Linked DNA regions of Homo sapiens. The protein of the gene in region 1 interacts with the protein of each later gene in a pairwise test. Each region holds a gene or a part of one and is shown on either strand. Other genes may lie near its edges.

Region 1 (4,578 bases):
GGAAAAGATCCAAGGATCAGGAGTGGGACCACTAGACCCAAGAGATAACTTCCATTCCTGAAATGAAACCGAAGCAACCAATAAGCACTGTGCAGCCCTGTGCCATGATGGTCCTATGACACTGCCAGCCTCTCCTCAGACAAAACCCATCACCACCATTAGGTCACAGAGCACCCTGTACTTTGGTCCAAAATTGCCAAGGCATTCATTATTAACAGCACTAAAGGCAGCCCTGCCTCCATTTGGGTGTATTGGTACTCTTTTCCAACTTCATTACAATTCTCCCCAAAGCACCTGAACCTGCTTCTGGGCAACAGTGTTTTTATCCACAACTTTCAGCTGTATATGCTCTGTGGCTGTCGGTCACCCTGCTCCCCTCACCAGCCCAATGCTTGCTCAATGGGCACATGAAGAAGCCATGATGGCAGAGGATGGAAGCTAGGAACTTGGCCCAACAGCATAAACTTCCCCTTACCAAAACTGAAAACCTGACTGGCTACTGCCTCTGCCCAGTGTCCAATTTGCCAGCAGCAGTAATCAACACAGAGTGCCTCCACAGCTCCTTCCTTCAAAGGCACTGGCTGGGGATGGATGGATAACTTATATTCGTTATGGGAGGCATGCAACACTGCCCTCACCCTTGGAACTGCTGAGAAAGGGTCTCCAGCCCCATTCACAGCTTCAGTGATCTGTCCATATGAGGAGGAGGCAGAGCTGAAGAGGAATGTACATGGGCCACAACATGTCCCCTCCCCTTCATACCATAACACAGGCGCTCAGAAGATACACTGGCTCACATGCACCCCACACACATGCACGTGTCTACACTTAACAACACACAAGCATGTACACATGCTGCCAGCCTCCCCACAATCCCTCAGTTACACACATACACATAAGTGACCAGACATCTCTGCAGGGGTTGTGACCTTTCACGTGCATTCGTCTCCTTAAGTTTGTACACTGAACCAGGCCCCCAGAGCTCACTGATACCCATTCTCCACCCCCCAGCTGTTCTGTTGGCTGTTATTTCCAAAGACTCCATCAGGCACATCTCCATCCTATCTAGAGTGACACCCACCAGAGGTGGCTACAGACTTGGGCCATGAAGACTACAGTCACTCCATGATGGAGCCATCTTCATGGCACATCCCCTAGACCAGGACACCCCCTCCTCCTCCCACATTCCAACCATTAAAAAATTGGACCTCTCTCTCTTCTGTCCAAGTCACTTCCCCACCGGAGGGTGGCCCTTGGCTGACGCCTGGCAAATAAGGAACAGTTTGTGGATAAAGCACCCTTGTGGGCAGACCGGGGAGAAGGGAGGTTATGCTTTGAGCCTTTCCCCACTTGGGTCTATTTTTCTATTAAGTATACATTGCAGTGGATAAAAAAAAACACACTAGTATGAAATAGGAATTAGGAAACCTTTTTTCTAGCCCCAGCACACTGCCATTCACAAGCTCTCTGACTTTGGACAAATTGCTCCCTCCCTGAGCCTCAGTTTCCCCATCTGTAAAATAGCCTCCGAGTTTCAGCCCTGCTCTAAAAGTATCAGGAATTATTCCTAGGCAAATCAATCTTCTTTGGAACAAGAATCATTACAAGAAGAAAACTCATTATAATGGCAACTAATCCATATTCATCTATTTGCTACATATTATCTTTAAAACTCTTCTTCATGCCGTTTGAATGCATGCCCAATATCTCAAAGGTTTGGGCTATATATTCCCACACTACACTAGGGGCTTCTGGTGTGGGACTGTCTCTCCCCCATCAAACTTTGTGAGCAGGAGCAAAGCCCACAACATTTCCCTGGAAAAGCAAGAGTCAAAGTGGGGTCAGGACAGACACCAGAAAAAATCTTGGAGTCTCTGTGCTAGAAACTGTAAGCCACCTGCTGAGCCTCAAACCCAATTAATTACCACTCTTTTGACCCTGCCAATCCCTGTTGTGTAAGACCTCTCTACTCTCTATTTCTCCCACTTGCTCCCCAATGATCTAGTTCCCCAGGTCCCACCTCTCCTGAATCTCTCCAGCCCACCCCTCCCTGCCGGAACCCCATTCCTGCCTCAATCTTCCCTGCTTCTGCACTCACCAGCCCCTGGGCCAAGGACAGAGAACAGCAACAGCAGCAATAGGGCTGGCGGCAGCTGAAACCCAGACTTGAGTCTAGGCTGGGAGAGGGGCAGAGTATGAGAGATAGGGGGGACTAGAGGGAGAGACTTGGGTAAACACAGAGATGAGGGCAAAGGCTGAGATAATGGGTTGGGCTGGGCTGGACACTGGGGCTTGAACAAGGGCAGGGAGTGGGATGGAAGGAAGGGCTGTGATGGGGACTGCAGCAAGGGACGGGGTTGAGCCAGGGCCTTAAGCAAACACTGGGAATGGGGCTGGGACAGGGCCTGGGCTGGGATTTGTGACAGGGGGTGGAACGAGGGCCGAGGCCGGGATGGGGGCCAGGCCAGGGGCAGAGACTGGAAGGGGGTCCTGGATGGGGACCCAGGCAGGGGCTGGGGCCGATGTGGGAAGCGGGGCGAGGGCGGGGCTGGGGGCCAAGGCGGGGATTGGGATAGGACGAGGGGCCGGGACAAGGGCTGGGCCATGGCCCGGGGCGGGGGCGGGGCCGGACAGGCCAGCGCGGGGCGCTCGCAGAGCTGGCCCGCGGCTCCGCTCCCCACCCCCGGGGGGTGGCCTCCGGTGTCCTCGCGGGCCCGGGGCGGGGGCCGGGGACCTGGGTAGGAGTTCAGGCCTGGGCGACTCCGGGCTGCGCTGAACCGGCGATAACCAGGCCCCGCGGCGGCGGCCTCGACTTGACGTCGGCGTGACGCCCCGCCCCCCGGCCGGCTCGATTGGTCCCTGTCAGTAAAGCCCGCCCCCGCCCTACTCTATTGGTCCCCAACTTAGTCCTGCTGGGCTTCGAGGACACACAGACTCCGCCCCCGCCTCAGCTACCCGAGACCCTGCCTTTCTCACCCCAAGCACAGAGCCCGAGGTCCCCTCAGATCCTCACAGCCCCCAACGACCGCCCCACAGATGTCTCAAAGGAACCCTATCCTCACAATCCCAGACTCCCCCGGACGTACGCACAGATCTCCGCAGATCCTACCCAAACACTCGCTCACAGAGATCCCGCAACACACACCCCACTTTTCAGAAGTAAACCCTCTGGGCTCGCCCCCTCGAGGCCCAATGCAAGCCCCTCAGGAGACCTTACCCACCGGGGAGGTGACCAGACCGCCGTTGCCACGGAGACTACTAGGCGTTCCGGTTGCCCTGGTGACCGGCGCCTACTCTCCTGGCCCGGGTTCCGGAGGCTTCAGTCAAGACCCTCCCTCATTGGCCCTAGACCCCTTGTCCCTACCCACTTCCCCAGGTCATGCCAGAGCTCCTTTGCGAAGTTCTGCAGATATCCAAGTCCCCTTCCCAGATAGCAGACTTTCAGGCAAGGCATTTCAACACTCAGCACCTGCAGCTGAGGCACATCCACAACCAAGAGCCTTTCCTCCCTGAGGATCAACACCTCCCCCTGCCATCCTAAGTCAAGGTCTTGACCTAAGGACTTGTAACAACCAAGCCAAAGCCCAGAGGGTAGGTGGTTTCTCCAACGGCCCTTGCCCTCTTCCCTCAAAGACATCTGTCTTTCTCCCACCCCTCAGTCCCTTCACATTGTTGTAGTAGTAGTAGTAGTAGTAGTAGTAGTAGTAGTAGTAGTAGTAGTTGTTGTTGTTGTTGTTGTTGTTGTTGTTGTTGTTGTTGTTTGAGACAGAGTCTCGCTCTGTCCCCCAGGCTGGAGTGCAGTGGTGCGATCTGGGCTCACTGCAACCTCCGCCTCCCAGGTTCAAGTGATTTGCTTGCTTCAGCCTCCCCAGTAGCTGGGACTACAGGCGCCTGCCACCATGCCCAGCTAATTTTTGTATTTTTAGTAGAGACTGGGTTTCACCATGTTGGCCAGGCTGGTCTCGAACTCCTGACCTCAAGTGATCCACCCGCCTTGGCCTCCCAAATTCTGGGATTACTGGCATGAGCCACCATGCCTGGCCCACATTCTGTACTTTTCATCCTTACTCTCCTCCTCCACCCAATTTCCTCCTCCCCTTCTCTTTCCCCTTCCTCACCTCCCATCTTCTGGTTCTCCACTCTTAGGCCCCTTTTCTCTCTAGCTGACTCTGGTCATCTTCCTCCCTGTAATCCTACCTCTGCCCCTAATTCCCTTCCCAAACATCCCCTTCAAAAAGGCTCTGATGCATTTAAGGAGTGATATATCTAGCGTCTCTGGAACATGGGGGTAAAGTAGGGAGCACGGAAAGTTAAGGCAGGAATCCTCAGGCTGTGTTGAAAATGATGACAGGCCTTGAATGCCAGGGCCAAGAAATTTGGACTTAATCCTTTAGACTGAGTCATGGAATGTTTTTAAGCCACAAAGTGCCAGTTGTTGGGCTTGCACTTTAGAAAGATCCTGATTGGGTCAGGAAGGAGGACTACATCCTTGCAGGATAAATTAGGTATATCCCCCTCCCCACCGTATCCTAGACTCACCCCAGAACAACATCAATTTATTTGTATTGCCATTGTTGG
Region 2 (4,569 bases), on another chromosome or scaffold:
TCCTTACTCTGGAGTTTATTAAAAGCTTCATTTTGAGAGCCCTCTCATTGGGAGACGCCAGGATTGCCAGAAGCGAACAGAAGCGCTGGCGCATCCCAGCACCAGGCATCGAACTTCCCTGGGCAGCATGGAGAAAAGCTGCCGCCCGCGGGTGGGCTCCTGGCGGGGACGCCCAGCGGCGGGGCGGGGCGAGACGCGGGCGGCCTGCAGCGCTGCAGCCGCAGGAGCCCTCAGGGCTCCGCACAGCCCGGCCCGTTTTCCCCAGAGACTCCCTCCCCTCATGCCTAACCCCAATTCCAGTTTTCCTCAGGCCTTTCGGGTTGCCCCAGGGTTTCTCTCTGGAGTCTAGGCTGACTTCCCCTCTCCACCCGCAGAGCCCTGCGTGGGCCATGGCCATGACCCTGGCGGTGGCTGCAGGCGTCCCGGGCTGTGGAGCAGGGGCTGCGCGCCGGACCGCTGGAGGGTGTGTGGCACAGCGTGGGGACTGGTCGCTGTGTGCTTGTGTCGCTGGCTGCGTGTACTAGGGGATGGGCAAATCACACGGCTGCCGCATACCCACTGCCACCCAGCGCTAAGAAAAGAGCAGGAAAAGCAAAACAAACAAAAAAGAAAAGAAGACAGGGAAATAGAAAGTCGATGTGGGGGATTCCGGAGCTTGAGGAGTGGGAGGCGCCGCGCTCTTCTTGGCTCGCGGCGCCTGGGCTGGCAGACTTGGAGCCCTGGGTGGCCGCAGTCACAGACGTGCTGTGGCGGTGAACTGACTTAAAGACGCGGGAGGGCGGCCTGGGTGAAATGTCCACCGACAGTTCTGCTGGCTTTACGCGTTTACCTCCAATTCTCTGTTCTCCTCCAGCCTCTCTGCCCCTGGCGAACCTCCCTGCTGGTATTTCCGTACATGCAAGAGCCTTGGCATCATCGCCAGGGACTGGCGGGTCGGTGGACTCAGCCTGGGACAATTCTGTATCTCAGGGCAGCCTCGAGGACGGCAATGGGCAGGAAGATAGAGAAAGGGATGCGGATGCTGGAGGCGGACGGAGGCAAAGGGTGTGCCGCCGTGTGTGTCAATAATTCTGGGGAATTTTCACCTCTCCCAGATGAGTCTCTACTTACCCCGTGAGGGGCCCCAGGGGCGCCGGGCAGCGCGCACAGGTGGAATTTCTGCGCGTCTACCGGCACCAGGCATGGACCGCACCTGTCCGTGTCCGAGAGCTACAAGTTAGCGGCGATTGCCTGGGACCTCAGGTGCGGACTCCAAGGGACATTGCGGGCGGGGAGGGGTGCAGCGGTCCCCAGTCTACGACCCCGGGGACTGCCCGGGCGGTTCAGGACCCATTGTGAGTTAGGTGGCGAAGCCCAGGCACTGTCTGGTACCTCATGAGCTTCGGGCTGAGACCTTGTCCCCCAGCCACGGCGGACAGTCCAGCTCCTGCGCGGGGCTCAAATAGGATGGGATTGCAGAATGCTTCCCTCTCCTTTGTCTTGGGACCCTTTCCCCCATTCTAATTGCTTCTCCTCCTTGGCCATGACCTGGAGACCGCAATGGGAAACCTCTCCAGCGCCCAAGGGCTGCTCCGAAAGCGGAGCCGGGGGACAGCTCGGAGCCCGAGCGAGCCGGGCCTCCATCCCACACGCACAGAAGACGCGGTCAGACCCCAGCAGGAAGGAACCCGAGGGGCGGGAGGGACGAAGCTCTCCTTGTCTTGTCCATGGCTGCATCTGGAGTGGGTGGCGGGAGGGGGGTCAGCAACAGTAGAGGGAATGGGGGGCTGGAATAGGGAGCGACGCCGGGACAGCGCAGCTCCCAGGCTGCTTTCGCCACATTCGGCTGGACTCAGTGACCGTCGGAATCGTAGGGGTACCTCGCCTCGCGCTGTGCCTCGTTTGCCCCTTCCTTTCAGACCCGCCATCACTGCTCGCAACCCTCCAAGCCCCAGGATCCAAAGTTTCCGTTTGAGAATCTGCACGTGGGGAGGACCTCCCTCCAATTCCCCCAAGCCCCGACCCCTGAGCCTCCGGCTTGGGGGGATATGAAGGGAGAGACCCCCTGGTGCCAGGGCCCTTGGAGTGGGTAAGCGGAGAGCTGCACAGCGCGGGGCCCTTACCTGTCGCTGGTTTCGCTCCAGTTGCCTCCCCGGCTGCGAGGTGGTGGAGGCTTGAAGGAGCGAGGAGTCCTTTGTGGGTTCAGGGCCGATCCGCTCGGGCTGGAGCTGCGCACCGCTTAGAGTCCGAGGCCAGCTGCCGGTTCTCTTTCTCCCTTGATCTTGCAAAAGAAAAGGAAAAGATTAGTTGATGCCGAGACACTGTAGGGGTGGGGCGGGAGAGGCGGGAGAGGCGGGAGAGAACCGACCCCAAGGCTCTGGCGAGAGCTGCGGGGCTGGCGCGCGCGCAGGCAGAGTCACGCACCCCACACTCGTCTCAGCCACTTGGCTAGTCTGTGACCTGTTCGTGGTTTAGACTGGAGTTAAATTGACGCTGCCCCCGCCCTCCACGCCAAACCACTAAAGGAGAAGCAAACAAGACTTTCAAACCTGGCTTTCACGAAGAGCCTGGAGACCAAAATAGAATGGAGACCTGGATGCCTCGGCGAGCTGGGCTGGATTCATTTCTTCACCAAAGTGCTTGGGGAAGTAGGAATTAGTTTTGGGAGGCAACACCTATTCGGGTACCTCGGCGATTTCCTGGTGAAATCTGCGATTTCCAGGCTCTGGCCAACCCGCAGCCTGGAGTGTGTGAGTGTGTGTGTGTCTGTGTGTGTGTGTGTGTGTGTGTGTGTGCCCGCGCGCGCTCCCTAGGTCTTTGCGCCCTGGCGCCTTTAGTACAGCAGGAGAGCGTGTCTGTATTCGTGCGTGTGTGTTCGATTAGCTGCAATGGGCGGACAATTTCTGGAGAGAACATTTACAATTTTCTTTCAGTATGACAGGATTAGTTGCTGTTGAAGGCGCTCCTCCAATGAAATCTTCTGTGCTCTCTGATTTGGCGGTTCTTCTGAGCAAATATGACAGCCGTTTCTCCAGGCTCTTTTTCGCTTCTCTCCATTTCCATCCCCAGAGCCCAGCTCTCCATCTGCAATTTCTACATCAGAACCACCCCCAACCCCGAGTCCCTTCCCTGCAAGTGTGTGAGTGCTACAAAGGTGACATGGCATATTGGGAAGAACGCAGTATTGCTTTTTGTTTGTCGGAGATACTTAAGCCCAGTTTTTCCAGGTGGGAAAATGTTAGACTAAATCCACTATGCTTTGTAAATATATAATTGTGCTGAACTATTCACAGATTGTTTATTTCTTTGGAGCTTTGACAAATGTATCCGAAGGAGAAGTAATTTTTTTCTCTTACTTTAAATATGAGCCAGTGACCATGTTTTCTTCAGCTAATGGGCAGTAGACTACAGAATATATCTATATCTATATCTGTATCTATATCTATATTCAGAATATGTGTATATCCAGAATATATATATCTAGAATATATATATATATGTCCAGGATATATATATCCAGAATATATAGATATATATATCCAGAATATATATATATATATCCAGAATATATATATATATATCCAGAATATATATATATATCCAGAATATATATATATCCAGAATATATATATATATATATGTCCAGGATATATATATCCAGAATATATATATATATATATATATATATATATATATGTCCAGGATATATATATCCAGAATATATATATATATATCCAGAATATATATATATATATATGTCCAGGATATATATATCCAGAATATATATATATATGTCCAGGATATATATATCCAGAATATATATATGTCCAGAATATATATATATCCAGAAAATATATATATATCCAGAAAATATATATATATATCTCAAAAATATATATATATATATCTCTCTCAAAAAAAAAAATATATATATATATATATATCTCCAGAATATATATATGTTTGATGCTTCAGGGAATTTGTGATCTCCATGAAAAAAGATTTAGGATGCAAACTTTCTGTGTTCAGACCTGCCTTTGATGTTTATTTCTTTATTTTAATGAGAAATTTCTGCCAATAATTGTATCTATTATTTTTAGATACTAACCTCATTTGATAAAAGTACAATGATAGGATTCTAAAGTGTAGCTTAGGCCAAAACTTGCTTTTGTAAAAGCATATGTGTATGTGAATATAACATCAATATATTATATATTACATAGGCTTTATTTTCTCTCATCCAACTTCAATCAAATAAAGAGCAAGAAGTGGAAACCTTAAATTGAATAGCCCAGAATTGGACACATCACTTTTTGGGTCACAGGGATAGACAAAGAGCAAGTTAAAGATACATTGATATAATATAATATAGTCAATTAAATTCAGTTCAGTTCTTGACGTCCAGGGTTTTGCTAGGTATTAAAGGCCATCCACAAGAGCAAAAACCACTGTCCCTGTGTTTTTATAAGCTTCTATTCCTATTGACAAGAAAAGACACTTCATTTGAAACATCTATGTAACAGTTGACAATCCAATGATTAATTTTATAGCAATGTAAATTTATTGATAAATGGAAATGCTGTAGCTGAA

The links.
Region 2: the proteins of TMEM8B (region 1) and CHRM2 interact in a two-hybrid assay, tested with the Homo sapiens proteins (one large-scale study listed by BioGRID and IntAct).

The regions. Positions count from the first base shown.
Region 1 is NC_000009.12:35,827,476-35,832,053, reverse strand, and holds the start of TMEM8B (transmembrane protein 8B), read right to left. Parts: upstream 2,827-4,578; 5' UTR 2,607-2,826; coding exon 2,099-2,606; intron 1-2,098. UniProt on the Homo sapiens protein: May function as a regulator of the EGFR pathway. Probable tumor suppressor which may function in cell growth, proliferation and adhesion.
Region 2 is NC_000007.14:136,866,952-136,871,520, reverse strand, and holds the start of CHRM2 (muscarinic acetylcholine receptor M2), read right to left. Parts: upstream 2,870-4,569; 5' UTR 2,529-2,869; intron 2,437-2,528; exon of another isoform or gene 2,348-2,436; intron 2,276-2,347; exon of another isoform or gene 2,261-2,275; 5' UTR 2,103-2,260; intron 1-2,102. UniProt on the Homo sapiens protein: The muscarinic acetylcholine receptor mediates various cellular responses, including inhibition of adenylate cyclase, breakdown of phosphoinositides and modulation of potassium channels through the action of G proteins.